Regions from separate parts of the Homo sapiens genome. Here region 1 is linked to region 2. Evidence: fine-mapped expression QTL. Tissue or cell type: testis. Region 2 holds a variant in brackets; the other region holds the start of a gene. All regions are shown on one strand. Distances are from middle to middle.

The links. PIP is the estimated chance that this variant, and not a neighbour inherited with it, causes the effect.
Region 1: NOSTRIN starts here. The variant in region 2 is fine-mapped to the expression of NOSTRIN in testis (GTEx, PIP above 0.99). The same link has a PIP of 0.9 or more in minor salivary gland.

What each region holds. Positions count from the first base shown.
Region 1 is chr2:168,798,786-168,806,895 of GRCh38, reverse strand. It overlaps NOSTRIN (nitric oxide synthase trafficking), which reads right to left and starts at 4,259. Exons shown (of 16, transcript NM_001039724.4): 1 at 4,223-4,259. The coding sequence starts at 4,249. RefSeq lists an enhancer at 4,316-4,815.
Region 2 is chr2:168,854,102-168,862,211 of GRCh38, reverse strand. NOSTRIN (nitric oxide synthase trafficking) reads right to left here. Exons shown (of 16, transcript NM_001039724.4): 11 at 6,752-6,860; 12 at 5,434-5,522; 13 at 2,575-2,700; 14 at 1,303-1,417; 15 at 163-252. It also overlaps a transcript of SPC25 not described here. Among named protein-coding and RNA genes, the nearest start is that of SPC25, 32 kb to the left of the region's middle. The variant A/G (reference allele first, on the strand shown) is at 4,372.

The DNA.
Region 1 (8,110 bases), 55 kb after region 2:
GCTTCTTGATGTCATTAACCAGCACAAGAAGAAGAGCTTGCTGAGAAGAAGTGCAGTCAGGTGGAAGGCAATTTTGGTGTTCTTTTCCTACCCATTGAGCTTTTAAATATCCTAACCCCCTATCAAATATTCATTCCAGGGAATAATCTACTATTGATTCTACATCTCCATATGAATTCATATTAATATGCTGCTTCTCCTGGGGACCATTAATTATTGGGGAAAAAAACACGATGAGGTTTTTCTCCCCTGATAAAGGGATTTCAGTCTGGTAGTGGAATACCTGGGATCTTCCTGAGCCCCTAAAAAAATAATAACCCCTTCTCAAATAGACAACTGGTCTATTTGACAGACATTTCCCATTCGGCCATTAGGAAAATGTTTCTTCCCAGCACTTGTAAGCAAATTCTGTTGATAAATATAGCCATTACAAAAAACATTTAGTAATCCAGCCAGTCAGCACATGAAATGTTTAGACAGGCGACTTGTAAAGATTATAAAGTGCCTATATCAAGCTTGGCCCACCTGCTCTTTCTGCTTGAATGATTAAGAGGGTTAAATTTAGTTCTAGAAAAAGTTATAGAAAAATTTATTTTTATTGATGCTAGTACAGAAGGATTTTTTTTGATTAGTGATGATCCTCACAGTGTTAAAGAAACCATGATATTCCCCTTAAATTTAACACAATGAACTTTGCTGACTGCCTTTACTACGCCAGGCACTGTGCTACTGATATCATGTGAGTTCTGATTCACTGGGGGTGATGTTTCAAAGCACTGCCCCTCTCTGAAGGGATTCCATGTACTTGTTCACCATCTGCGTAGTATTTGGAATCCCTGTGGCAGACTGTCATAGATTACGGGATATGGAACATTAAAGAGCATAGTCTACTCCATCCTTTCCTCCTTTTACTTTACACACAAGGAAACAGAGGTCCAAGAAATGTGGAATGGCATGTTACACATCTCACTGATGCACACTGGGGAGGCTGTGGGCCACGTGACACCCATGCCATATGCAGCCTCCTTCTGTATTTTTGCAGCGAGTCAGATTCTCCTAGGAGCTACGGACCATGGCACCGGCACCATCTGAGTTAGTGACAGTCATTGTCTGATATCCAGGCTAAGCCACCAAGATGGGAAGCTCAGGTTGGCATCTGAGCCAGGTTACCAACCTGAGGAGCAGCCTGGTGCCATTTCAATGGCCGATGACATGCGGGGAGGGGCTGACTGTGTGGCGCCCAGAAGACTTGCTTTGACAGACCCCTTCCTGGATACTGTATGAGTGTGTAAAAAGCAAAAATTTGGCTACAGCTTGTTACTTGTCCTTGATTTCTATGTGATTGTTTGATAGGAAGGTGCTATTAATACTTTCTTATGATTGGATTCTTTCCCTTAGAGATAATTGGATCTTACTTCGCCTTTCTTGCACATGGATTTGAAGATGAGTTCCCTAGACATATTTTTAGGTTTAAGAGCTAAACCTAAACCTTCATAGGCAATGAAACATCAAGGCCCAGAGCCAATTCTTTTCCTTGTCAAAAACAGAACTTTAAAGATATCTTACAGATATCTTTTTCAAATAAGTTCTGACACTCTCAAGATTAATCCTACACAGCATTTAGGCAATCTTATGCCACCCTGGCAACAATTTGAACTCAAACACTGACCTTGCTCTTTGAGGTTGAAAGGCCCAGCTGTCAGTCTATTTTGCCCATTAGAGCTTGATCTAAAAGAGATTTTTAAATTTTTTCGTACCATGAGCCCTTTTTGTAGTCTCATGAAACCTATTTGATTCAGAATAACATTTTTAAGTAGCGTAGGGTTAAAAAGGAAATGAATTATATATTTTTTAGAATGTATTTTTAAAATTATGATATTATGTGCTTTTTTATTAACATACTAAATTACATATCTTAAGTATTACCAACATTTTGAAGTCAGGGTGAATGTAAATATTTCTAGATATGTGCAACAACTGTAATGTTATCATAAAATTTCTGATTTTTATTGGTTACAAAGTCACAGACACTATACAGATATGACTAATAGTATTGGGGCTTGTTGCCTATATTCTGGATTGAATAAAATTCTAAATTTCAGTTAGAAATTAGTACAAATAGAGATTTTTTTTCACTGAAGTTCATGCAACCCACTGAGTTCCATACATGGGTACATTGGTGTGGGCCCGGTTAAGAACAGTAGCTAAGCTAATACTTTATGAACTGTGCTCTGTGCAACTCTAGGGACTCATGGAAGGGGACATTTTGCAGGTGGTTAAAGCTTTGGGTTCTTTTATAAAACTACCTAAATGTTTCATGAGGCACTCATTTGCAATCCATTTCCTTGTCTTATTTTGTTCCCAAACCGCAGATTCATCTTCACATAGCATTGTTCCCCAAGTACAAGCTAAGAATGTGCCAGGAAATCAACTTGAACACTTGATTAAGATGAAACAATTGCAAATAAATAAATGTTCTGTGAGTTTAGAGGGTTTGGAAACCCAGGCTGAAGGGATATCCGCCCTCCCCATGACTCCCGGATACTTTTGGTGGCAATGAGCCCATACAGATGACCTTCAAAGTTTTAGACAAGGACAGGAGTCCTTGGCCCAGCATAGCACAAGGAACTATTCAGCATGCCAGGGAGTGGAGCTTTAAGCAGACACAGAAGTGTGGTTATGGGTTGCCTTGGGGGCTGCTGAAAGAAAACATTTCTCCACGTCTGAAGACTTGACTTTGCTGTCTACAAAAAGGATGTTAGACCTTCAGTTTCTTTTTTATGGATTTATTTCTTCTTCTCTTTTTAAACTTAATTAAAGCTGCCCACCATTTCCCTGTCTTCTGTCCATTGCACCCTTCCCTGGTGTTAATTTTCTTCTTTGGTTACTATTAGTGCCAAGATTTTGCTGCCACTTACCCCATCCCTGTCCTGGCCTGCCGCCCCTATACAAAAACATTGAGGTAGGAGTGTTGAGACAGGAGAGGATTTAACAGTTTAGTCAGGGAGCAACCTCAAGGAGAGAAAAATAAATGATAAAAGACTTCTTAAAAATTATTCACAATTAACAATGGAGAGAACACTGAGATTGAAGTAATTAAAGGGGGAAGTTTCACTCTTAAAAATCTATATATAACCATATCATTGGAATTTGTTTCTACATTAAGCACAAATTATTTCTGTATTTAAAAAAAGGAAAATTAGGCAGAATTGGCTACTATGTTGTCATTATTAAAATTACTAGTCATTTATGAGTTCATCTCATTTAGCTCATCTGATTTTCTGCAATAGTAACTATAGTTCCATTTTTTCCAACCATGTGCTTTTCTTATCCATTGAATAAACAAAAAGGAAATCAATAATCCTCTGCTGATCTTTTTCTTTATGACTTTATCTCAGCGCCCATTTATCTGCCGCCCCACAGTTTGTGTTATCAATACATGAAGGATGACTGCAACCTCCTGCTTATGATGTCACCAATCTTAGCTTTTCAGCCCCATGTGTTGGGATAAAACACTGACCCTCCTTAATTACTTTATTTTCAAAGTAAACATATCCCCCCCTTTATTTTAGTTGCTTCTTATCTCCTAAATTACATCTCTGCTATTGCCGCCGGAGACCTCACAATGTCTTTGGACTTCTGACCAAACTTATATTTTTGGTAGTGCTCCAAACATTACCAAAACGAACAAACATGGAACAAACATGCTGCTAAACCAGTCTGAGAGCCACTGCAGGCCAGGCAGAGTGGGGAGTCTATCCTTCCTCCTGCAGGACTTGTGATCCTTGACTCCAAAAAATGAGGGTGAAAAGGCACAAAAACTCTCCTCCCTCACTTTATTCTCAGAGCCAAAAATTGGCTGCAGACATTCTGTGTGTTTTTGTATCCACACCACACATGATGTTGGCACCATGGGTGTATGTCTTAAGAATGTTTTCCAAACAGCCACCATCTGGATCCAAATATGAGGCTTTACTCTCTCAAAACTTTTTCCAAGAATATGAGAAGGAAAGATGACAATTACCTGCCCTGTCATTTCCTAGAAAAAGCTCTGTTTTTAAACTGAACCAAAGAAAAACCACAAACTTTTGCACCACAGCCAATATCTAAATGTGTTTGGTTTCTGAGTGTCTCAAATTTCTTAAGTTAAAATCCATTAATATACAAATCCACCCTCCACCCTCCTCACACGCAGGCACACAAACCACACTGAGCTACTCACCGGACAATCTGTCAGTGGGTCCCTCATGTTGAAATGTGTCTGGCTTTTGTCCTTTCACCTACGCTCCAGCATTCTGGACACTGTAATCAAGGTTGGGTGTGTCCTGGACTTCCGGGATTCAAAGGGCCTAGAGTACGTCAGTCCTTGTCAAACATTCCAAGGAGGAAGTCCCAGCCCTGGACTTTCATCCCGTTTGTGTCCCGAGAAAGTAAAGAACTGCTCTGGGTCAAGACGGCCAGTGTGAGATAGTGAGAATGACTTCTGTAAACCCTCAGAGGGCAGGATCCTGAGTCCTGAACAGCGTAACATTGAGAGAAGGCAGAGAAGCTGTAACATGTCTCCAACAATTCTTGCGCTTGGTCTGACAGTGCAGGAACACATATCCTCTCAGCCTGCAGTATTAATCATGCTTTTTATTTTCTGTATTGTATGATGCTTTGACCTTTGGGGACCTCATGGACTTGGAGACAGACTGCCTCTCTGAGGGTTAGCTAATTCCTAGAGAGAGCAAACAACTGGCCTGTGAGCACTCCTTTAATATGCAAACCAACAAATCCAGAGCCCAAACCTCCCCACCATCTCTGTTACCCAGTTCTCAAATACCAAGCCCATATTCCCCCACCCCCTAAATCCCACAGGGCCAGACACCAAACAACTAGGAACCTACACCTATAGAACTATAACTATAGAATGTTCAGAAACAGCTATCAGGAGCAAAGCGTACATTAACCACTTCTCTGAGCCTAACTCCACACTCGCTCCAGCCCCAACAGGATCAAGAGGCTAAGCTTTCAATGTAAAGAAAAAATTGCCTAGATCTGGCCTCATTTTTCATCACTCAAAAGGATAGACAGAACAAGAACTCAACCACAGCTTGAGTTCTATTGCATTCCCTGTACCTGTGGTCCCAGTTGCCAATCATTAGATTTCCAATGAATGGCCTATTGATGTACGACAGCCATTTGCTAGACTGTGGACAGTTCTGTTTGACTGGCAGGCAAGGGCAGGCCCCAGTTTGAAAGGAGCTCCATCAACACAGTCCAGTGGAACACTTCAGAGTTTAAAAGCATTCAGTTTTCACCTGACTGGCTGACTCAGCCTCCATTCACCTGCCCCTGGTGTGCAGGCTCCATTCAAAGTCCCTAGAAATAAGCCAGTTGCAGTGGCTCATGCATGTAATCCAAGCACTTTGGGAGGCCGAGCCTAGAGGGTCACTTGAGGCCAGGAGTTTGAGAGCAGCCTGGGCAATATAGCAGGAGATTCCTATCTCTATAATTTTTTTTTTTTAATTAGGATGTGGTGGTATGTGCCTGTAGTCCCAGCTACTCAAGAGGTTGAGGCAGAAGGATTTCTTGGGTCTAGGGGTTCAAAGCTGGGCAATAGAGTGAGACTCTACTTCTAAAAAAAAAAAAAAAAAGCTTCCAGAAACAACGTAGAAGAGTCAGGGGACAATTAAGGAAAAGAACTTGCCTTGCAACAAGAGTGGAGAGGAGGGGTCTTTTCCACACACTTAATGCCCTCCCTCTTTGCTTATCCAAAGAACTTGATCACTGGAGGTTACAACAATCTTGGGTAGCTACCACAGGGCTAGAATTAGACAAAGCAACTCTGTATAATAAAAGAAATTTAGGTAAGGCACAGTGGCACACACCTGTAATCTTAGCACTTTGGGAGGCTGAGATGGGAAGACTGCTTGAGGCCAGGAGTTCGAGACCAGCCTGGTCAACATAGCAACACCCCATCTCTTTTTTTGTTTTTTTTTTAAAAGAAATTTAGAGACAGGATATAGACTGAGGTTAATAACATGTAACTCAAATTCCCACTTGAGGGGGCTTCTCTGCCCTCAGAGATTTTAGATAAACTTGTCCGGAGCCACCATTCCAGGACTTGGGACAGCTCAATGTTTTCTCTGTGATTCCTGCCCCATTTTTCTTGCTGTTCTGTGTTTCATTTCAGTCCCAACTGAGTCCAAACTGAGGAAATTGGCCTCCCTTGCCAGTTTCCATAAGAAGTGCTGTCACACAAAGCCTACTGTGATCTTTGTATACGAATTATAGATTGGTAGGGCACTCCTATCCCCAAACTCCTCATGTGTGCCATTCCCAGTGGGCTGACTAGCTTTCCCTCAGACCTCCTGGACATCTGCTGAATTAAAATCCTTCCATCTTGCTCCTGTCTGCCACTGGGCCGTTGTAAGGGCAGCAGGGCATCCCAGCTGAATCCAGACTGAGAATTAGAACTTGGCTATTTGTTGAGCTTCTCGGAGGAATGTTTGAATGTGCAAAAAGCCTTGATTTTGGAGGTCAGAAATAGGTTGGTATCGTTTATCCTTTGTCACAATAATGCTGTGTAACAAACAGAAACCCAGTGGCTTCAAATGACAGAGACTTTATTTGGTTCACAAATCTGTAGTTTAGCTGGATGGATCTTCAGGTGTCCCCTGACCTCACTCATGTAAAAGCAGGTCATCTACACAGGGCTTGGCAGAGCCATGCATCTGGGCTTTTCTGGGCAGGGGGCTGGCTGGGAGCTAGCTGTTGGCTGAGGCCGTATTTCATCAGCTGGTAGTCTAACCAGGCTCTTCTCAGGGTATGGCAGAGGAGCCACAAGAGTGAGTGGAAGAGCTCGAGGCCTCTGGAGGTACAGCTTAATATGGACATCCCATCATTTCAGCCACATCCAGCTGATCAAAGCCAGTCATGGGCCAGCCCAGATTAAAGGGGTGAGGAGAGCTTCCACTTCATAATAGGAGGAACTTAGTGTCCCATTGCAAAGGGCATAGAGACAGAGAGGGGCAGACAATTGGAGTTAGTTTTCCATTCAATTTACTACAATGGCTGCTTAATATTTGTTCTTGAATGACTAGAGATAAAGCAGCAAGGACAAGGAGCAGGTGGCTGGTATATGTCTTTCTTTCCCTCTCCCCAATCCAGCCTGGGGTGACACGTTTTGAACCTCAGCAGACTGGCGTTAGGAAGAGAAATAAGAGGACCTAAATCATAAAAGACTCTAGACGGATAAGGGCTGTTCTCTCCTCTGACCCCACATTCCACCCTACACATACTCTGCTAAGGAGCACAGCAAAAAGCACCTCTCCTGGATATGGGTTGTGAGGAGGCAGCAGCAGGGAGAACCTGCTAAGTTGTCTTCAGCCACTGAGGCTCAGGTAGGTGAGGCATCTTGATGAGAAGGATAGAGCAGACCACAGTGAGCACATTTGTCCCCGAGCATGTGAGAATTCCTCCAGTCCCCAAAAATGGCCCAAGGGGACTTTGGGAGGAGGAGACTGAGTTCCCATGTGAGTAAGAGGAGCAAAGAATCTTGTAGTTTTGGAATTAATATTAACAACCTCATTTGTACCTACAGGTTGATGAGAATGTGAACCTAAAGGAAAGAACAACTGAGGCCAACTTAATATAAGTAGAGCATTTACTTGGGCCAAGCTTGAGGGCTGCAACCCAAGAGCATAGTTTCAAGTGGCCCTGAGTATACGCTCTGGTTAGCAGCAGGTACAAGTAGGTTTTCAAAGGAAAAGAAGAGGAAGAGGAAGCTCCTGAGTTGTTTGCCAAGAATTTCCATGAAAATAACACAAGCTGTTGATTGGCTCTACACTGTTCTGTGAATCACAAATTCCAGGACCATAAAGATAGCAGATGAGGCAGCTAGTCAGGAACAAGATGCCTTTACATGATTGCTTCTAGGTGTGGGTTCAAGGAGGCAGAGCAAGACTTGAGCCCCATACTCCCCTCTCTGGGCCTGATAAATTTTGCATACCTCATATAGCTCAGACTGCTCTAAGCCATTTTTCTTCTCTCAAGAACTATCTTCTGTCTGTCTGTCTGTCTGTCTATCTATCTATCGATCGATCGATCGATCGAAGCATCTCCT
Region 2 (8,110 bases):
TCATTATGCGAGCTTTTGTTTTAGATGTGCTTATCTTTCAAGAAGGGTGAACTGATTTGACATGGTAGTAACTCTTAAGGCTGCCACACTAAGACAGGGTTTTATTCATGCTAAGAATCTCAATATGGGAAGGCAATTAAAATATTTGAGAATGATTCTTACCCTTTTCCAAATTCAACTCATCATCTTGCCTGGCTTGAAAAGAATACAAGGCCTTGCAAAGTCTGCTGCTGAGCTGGGCTGCACCAGGGGCTGAAATAGATAAAGCTGTAATTAGTATGCTGTGTTAGCAGGCAAATGAATATGAGCTGAAGCTCTTTGGTTATTTAACAGTGTGATGCAGAGTTTCAATATATTAAATTTTTCTCAAAAGGAAAGTTTGTAATTTTATATAATGTTCATTCCTTGATTCAATAACCACTTATGATGCACTTTCTATATGTATGGACTGCATATGTTATATAACCAAAAACTATATTATAATACATGAAATAGCAAGTCTAGAGAAAAACATCATTGTATAATAATAGTAATTGCATGCATGTTTTGGAAAACATTCACCAGTTTTGCCATTCAGGTATAAATACGGGATATTTGGGGCATGTGCATGTTATCATCATCCCTAGCTGTGTATGGAACTGTTTCTCAAACAATGCAACAGTGACTCCTTAATATATTGTGTGAACCATAATGTCCTGGTTTTACTGAAGTTCTTTTTTTTTTTTTTAAACCAATTTCTAATTTAAAAAACTAGATAGTCAAGATTATGGTAATTATACTTGAACATGCAGGTACAGTGACACGTGTGTGTGTGCTGAAAGATGAAGAGCAGTGTGGTGTGTGGGTGCATGAATGACTGAAGTCAGATGGCTGCTAACAGGAGTTTGTAGGCCATGAGTCCAAGCCCTGGCAAACCACCTGGATCACCATGTGTCTCGCAGAGAGGACAGGCTTCTTATGGGAGTTTGGAGGAGGCTATGGAGACAGAGCGACAAAGCTCCTCACGATGGTTTAGGTGTGATTATGTTTATGGCAAATAACAGGCCATTTGAATAAGGTGGATGCCAGTCATCTGATATCTGAGGCAACTTCTCATAGGATACTTTCCCAACCCTCTACTCTTCTTAACTTTTTCCCATTTTTACATAAAGCTACAGAGTCTAACAAATTAATCGGTCCCAATGGAAATATAAATTTCCTTAAACAGATACAGGTCAAAGTGGCTCTGAAACTAAAATTTAAATGTAGCAATGTGCCCTGCCAGTAGGACCCAGGCCAAAATGATTGTGGGCATGGGATTACCTGGAGTTGAAGAACCTGGATTGCTCTGCCCACCAGAAGATGCCTTGCTCACAATATTCTCTAATCTCTTCATTAAAAAAGGCCGAGATATTTTCACATAGCTATGAGTATGCTCCTGTTCAAATGACATAAAAAGTCATATTTTGTAACACGATTATCATAAACATTCATGAAAATTAACTCTTCTGTAGCTGTTTTCCTCAAGTTGTTTTTTCTGTTTGTTTTTTCTTTTTTTTTTTTAGACAGAGTCTTGCCCTGTCACCCAGGCTGGAGTGCAGTGGCATGATCTTGGCCCACTACAACCTCCACCTCCCGGGTTCAAGTGATTCTCCTGCCTCAGCCTCCCCCGTAGCTGGGATTACAGGTGCCCACCACCATGCCTGGCTAATTTTTGTATTCTTAGTAGAGACGGGGTTTCACCGTGTCAGCCAGGCTGCTCTCGAACTCCTGACCTCAGGTGATCCGCCTGCCTTGGCCTCCCAAAGTTCTGGGATTACAGGCATGAGCCACTGCGCCTGGACTGGAAGTTTTTAAACTGAGGGGTATAAATAATTCAAAGATTTCTAAGCCCTACTGTGTTTCAGTTTTGAGTTGAAGCCTTAATATTTTCACAATTACACAATTACTATACTTTATAGCCTGTGTTTCCAATTCTAACCTATGTGTCTAGGTCAAATAGTAATATTCATAGCATTACTTTTACAAATACAACTTTAGTTGGCTTAATGCAAGTGAAATGATCACAACCCTGTAAATGATTGAGATTGTTTTCGAGCTCTTGAGCCTTAGAAAACTGTCCCTTCACAAGATGATTACAGTTCCCCCTTCTGATCAGTAATAAAAATAGCTACAAGCATTTCAGAGCTGTACTGATGCATTATCTGCATTAGGCACCATCTTAAACAGATGAGACTAATACATACCACAAAATCTTATAATTTAGGTCTGAACGAATATTAAAATTTCAATTTAATAGAAATTTTACTGTAAAAGCACATCCAAAGGATGAAATTCAGGTATGATGAGAAAGAAGAAATCAAAAGTGTTTTTTAGCTTCTCATAGAAGTTTGGTGTACACAGAATGTATTCGGTTTTGTCTAGCTCTTGTTATTGTGCTCAAAAGAAAAATAAAAACATTTATCTTCTTAACTAACTGCATGAATATTAATATCACATAGAATTCCTAACACCTTTTTTGCCCTGATGCTACTTTAAGCCACTCCACCCAGCAGGCCCAATCAAGAAATTACAACCAGTCTCCTTAAATGTTACCTTTTCCCTCCACCTGAAGATGGAATTACTACAAGGATGGCTGGGTTGAGGTCTTTGCTCAAGTTCTGCTAACATTGATGACAGTTTGTAGGAGTTCGCTTCCAAAAGGTCTAGTTTCAAATTGTTCTGTGGATACATCATTTGGCCATGTGAGCAAATTTCTAGTAAATGAGGCACAACTGGATAGGAATATCAGAATAACTTTCAAAATAACAAAGGTTAGAAAAGTACGCATTTAACTCATACAGATATTCACAGAAAATGCCGAAGGAAAAAAAAATGGAGGAATAAACTCTTTAAGCAGTTTAGAGGGAGGTTTTAGTTGTTGAGTGTGTCTCATTCTGTACTCTGGGGGTGAACAGGAAACCTTGGTAATATATTAGTATTTTATGGCAATGAAGAGGTTTTACTCAATTTTCTGCTGAGGGACAAGAAAGGGGATAAGTGTTGATTGTAGAAGGTAGATTTTTGGTGGTCTGCGAAGAAGGTGAGCCATCAGTGCTAAATATTGTGAACAGAATTGAATTAACATCAATAGACGCAAATGAAATTGAATGTGAGGTTTGTTTGTTCTTTGATAAGGTGAGGTCTTATATTACCCACAAAGTTTACAGGAATACTTCTGGAAACTGGGAACAATATTTTAGGGCATTTGAGTATAAACATAATAAGTCAAGCTAAAGATACACTCCTAGTCTCTGTCTGTTCTTGATATGACCTTGAACTAGAAACTTTATAATTACCTTGTCAGGCTGGGTCCAGCCAGGGTGAATTAAATAACAGAATCTAAGCATTGGAAGGGTCTTGCTTATCCAGCCCCCTCCTCACCATTATCCCTCTCTCCCCCACACCTCCAGCATGGGAATTCCCAACCCTAATATCCCTGCCAGGGTGTCACAGCCATGGACAGAAGACATCCAATTGATGGAGAAAGTCTCTAATCGTTGGAGGAATCCACTGCATTGTGGGGCAGGCTTACCTAAGACAAAACTAAAAGCTCCCCCATGCTTTCTACCATTAGACCTTCACTTGATAGTCTCATAGAGCACATCTAGTTCTTCTTCTATGTGGCCCTCTTTCTGGTCTCTAAAGACAGTATTTAATCTAAGTGCCTCCAGTTTTCTCAACAATTTTTCTTATGACACTGCTTGTGAACATTCTTGATTCAAACATGGCACTTCAAGGACCAAGATATAATGAAATAAGGAAGAATGTAAATAAAAGTTTCCTCATCCTAGAAACCTTCCGTGGGTGACACAAAATCTACCAGTATCACTAGTTTCTGTCTACCCAGATGCAGAGCATGCGTAATGAAATCATGTGGATATTTGGCATTCCTCACTTAAAGGTTCATAGTTGCTCCTTCACCAGATCATAAACATTGGAAGTTCCAAGGTCAGATGCTCTCCCTCCTTGTGTCCTCCACTGTGTGCTTCAGGTGAGAGGACCCAGATGATCCTAATACATGTATGCTGGTAATGACAATGACAAAATTCTGTGCAAGGACAGCCAAAGGAATAGATGTATAACCCAATGGCATCAGTAGTTAACTAAACAGCTTGTGCGGTCACAGAAAATGTCCTACAGTCTGTTTTATAATTTCATAAAAACTGTAGCCACGGGTCATTGCAGGTATGTTAGACCTCTGTTACCCAGTGCACACAATGCAGGCTATTTTCTTTTACAAGAAGTGTTAGGCTTGTTTCTGCAACAGCACCTTACTCAAGAAAGCCTATCTAAAAACTAGGTCAGCGATACCTCACTGCATCTGTCTTCTTTCACCAAAGAACTATTGAA[A/G]TTGCCAATCTGGGTACAATTATCAAGTACCTACCTTCACAAGAAAGTTAGGCTATAAGCAAGAAAAACAAAACGCCCAGATTCCTGTACCTTCAAAACATTGCTAAAAAATTTATCTCCTTAAATGATTCTCAGATTAACCCCAGTCCACTCATGATCTCTAATCACAGCAGAAACCCATATGTTGCACACTGGTGCTATATATCTGTTCATTTTTATTCCTGTGTAAAATTCATCAGCTTTTTGTTAACTATCCCTTTCCCTTCCTCTGAAGTGGCCAAAATGTCCATCAATCCCCACGAATGTCTATGGGGCTAGAGTTCACACACTCAGCACAAAGGCCAGGAGGCCCACCTCCCTGCCTCTTCTACCATCTCCCCACCCCAATTCCCACCCTTAAAGAACTTTGCCCTCAAAGTTGCTCCTGGTTTCCCCAGATTTTGCCTCACACACCAGACTGCCCTATTCCCTCTGCAACCACGTCTTTCCTTTCCCCTGTTATTCTCCGATAACCCTGAGATCAGCAGAGGGATGAATGGAAAATACCACCTTAATAAAAATTACTAGTTTTTGAGCTCCTCCTGTGAGCATTGTGCTGGTATTTACTAAATAATATTTCACCCTCACAAAAGCCCCATGAGGTAAAGTACCAATATCCCCATTTTGCGGATGAGAAAACTAAAGTTGACCCAGGTCCCTGTAAACAGCAGAGCTAAATCTAAATACAGGCCTTTCTGAATGCAGATCCTTTGTTTCCTGTCGCTTTTCTTAACTGGGTTAAAGTGCACATGGTTTCTAGGCCCTTAAAGAACGACTCTGTTTGGAGAATACTATTTTAGACACAATTCTTTTCCTAGGACACCAAAGCAAACATTTCTAGGTAGTTGTATTTTTCCAGATCCCTCAAATGACTTATGAAGCTGACCCTATAAGCTCCCCCACTAGATTGTTCTATGTCATGAGAAAGGAAAGGCAAACAAGGCCAAGTGGACCAGAAACAAGTATTCTAAAAATAACCCTTTTCATCACTACATCTAGGAAATGCACTCGGCAAACATTTACCTCATCCATTAACGCTGCTGTGTCTTTCTGGCTCTTTGCATCAGAGAAGGAGGAGGTGCTGGAGTACGTTTTAAGCATTCGTTCCAGGCCTGAAAATGAAATCATGTTCTCAGTCACCTTTCACACTGTCTCAGTGGGACACAGCCAGGAGTCGGTCGCTCTCAAAGGGAGCCTAGAAGTGATACCAGTGAGATTTTTTTTTTTAAGACGGAGTCTTGCTCTGTCACCCAGGCTGGAGTGCAGTGGCGCGATCTCGGCTCACTGCAACCTCTGCCTCCCAAGTTCAAACAATTCTCCTCCCTCAGCCTCTTGAGTAGCTGGGATTACAGGTGTATGCCACCATGTCCGGCTAATTTTCGTATTTTTAGTAGAGACACAGTTTCATCATGTTGGCCAAACTGGTCTCCAGCGCCTGACCTTGTGATCCACCCGCCTTGGCTTCCCAAAGTGTTAGGATTATAGGCGTGAGCCACAGCACCCAGCCACCAGTAGGGTTTCTTAAATGGCTGAGGGAGTCTCTGCAGGTAGTTCTTAATAAATTTGACTGAATGATAAATGAACTGTTTACCTTTCTCTTCACTTAATGAAATTTGAGAAGTGCTGGTGCTTAAAGCATCTTGATTGTTATTTTTCCAGATGAGATTTTGAAATTCTTTCAGTCGACCCATTCTAGCAATTGCTAACAGTTACCCAACGTTGGCTTCTTCCTCGTTATGGTATTCACATCACTAAATGTTTTCTATCTTGAATTTGCTCTCTAGTATTCCATTGCAATGAGTTATCGTGGTCCATATAAAACAAGTTACTAGGTAGACATCAGAGTCACAAATGTGGAGTCGTTTTTGTCATCCTTGTTGCTTTAGAGCTGCTTCACAGTCTGACATGCCTAACTTCTACGTACAGAATTTAATTTGAAAGGTTTTTACATTGTTTCAAAAGTCAAAAGAAACAAACCAAAAAACTCATCCAAAACTCTCATGCACAGTTGGTTGACCATGTTTTAAACCAAACACATTATCTCTCATTCTAGCCAATTTCAGAAACACAGTTAAAATGCTACATTTCTGAAAATAGTAGTATAATACTTATATAGGTTTCATAAATAGACCAAAATGTGATTTTCCTTTTTTTTTTTTTTTTGGCTTTCTTTTTTCTTCTACTTTTTTTTTTTTTGTTCACACAACTGAAGTTTGATATATGGTTCTTTAAATGAGAAGACCCCTGCCAAATAGCAAAAGCAGATCAATCCTAACTCTGAATGAAACCTCTGAGCATCATATGGTCCCTTTTCTGGCCATTCAAAGAGATGGTTACACACCTTCCTTGTCTTTTGAGGCTTTTTCAATGTCTCTCTGCAGTCTCAATAATTTTGGTTTTAGTAAAGACTTTCGTCTCTCTTTATCCATTGCACTGTTAGGATCTTCTTCCTTTAGGAAAAAAGAAGGATGTCTAACAAGGGGGAAGAAGTAAGAGTTGCTATTCCCTGTCCATTCTGATACTTCCACTGGCTGCATTTAATTTTAACTTTATAAAATAAAACAAAATTTTTAAGCAGGATAATCTTTAGTTTTACACACATTGTTCTACCTGTTCGAGACCTGATGAATAAGAAAATATTGTCTTGTTCACAACTTTTAAGTCACATGGCCGAGCACTTTTTAATAGAGCAGATTGTTCTTTGAGGATGGACCCTTGCTATAGCTATTTCATTTTCTTGATAAATCTATTTGTTGTATACTTACTGCTTCCTTATTTACTTTTGTTCAAGTTAGAGTCCTTTAATGGCCCAAATGTAATATCATGTATGTGTTTCAGGCTATGACTGCCTCAGGAGTGGAAGACATTTTGACTGAGTTCTGTGTTGGCTCAGTACTGGGAAGATGTGAGCTAAAACACATATGCTCTTTCCAGAATGGGTTTATGATTTAGTTAGGCCTTGAAGCATAACATTAAAGAAACTAGCAATACAAGACCACATGCATTCACGAATGCTACAGACACCACGAGTGCAGGCAGCTGACAGCTTCGAGGAGGCAAGAAGACGTAACTGTCTAGTCAAGGAAAGATGGCAAAGGGCACTCCAGGCAGGAAAAATGGCGGGAGCAAAGGGCTGGGGGAGGACTGTGGGAAATGTGTCAGGAACAATAAAGACACCTGTTGCATGAGCAAAAAAATAGGGGAAGAAAAAATTGTTCAGGGAGTTGAGGCTAGATTTTAGGGCTGATGTAGGAATTTTATCACATAGGCTATGAGGAATCATTCATGATATCTGAGCTTTCACATGCATTATTTCAAGGATTGAATAAAAAAGAATAGGATGGTAGAGTTGGAGTGAGGAGGTTGCTAAACATGAGTGGCAGAGGGACAGAAACCCATGGAGAAAGACGGGAAACTAATGACTCAAGGTGGGAGGGGAGGATGCAGGCTTCGCTGATAAGGAAGGAGAAAAATTAGGATCCCGGCTGAGAGATTACCTTTAGATGGAGCTTCACAAACAAGAAGTGTGAGGATTTAGAGCAAAGGGAATAGCCTCTATAAAAACATATACAGATAAAAATATTTTATTTACATATTTTTCATTGCACATTACAAAAGTGTCTTTATATTCTGGGCCAGGTGTGGTGGTTCCCACCTGTAATCCCAGCACTTTGGGAGGCCAAGGTGGGTGGATCACTTG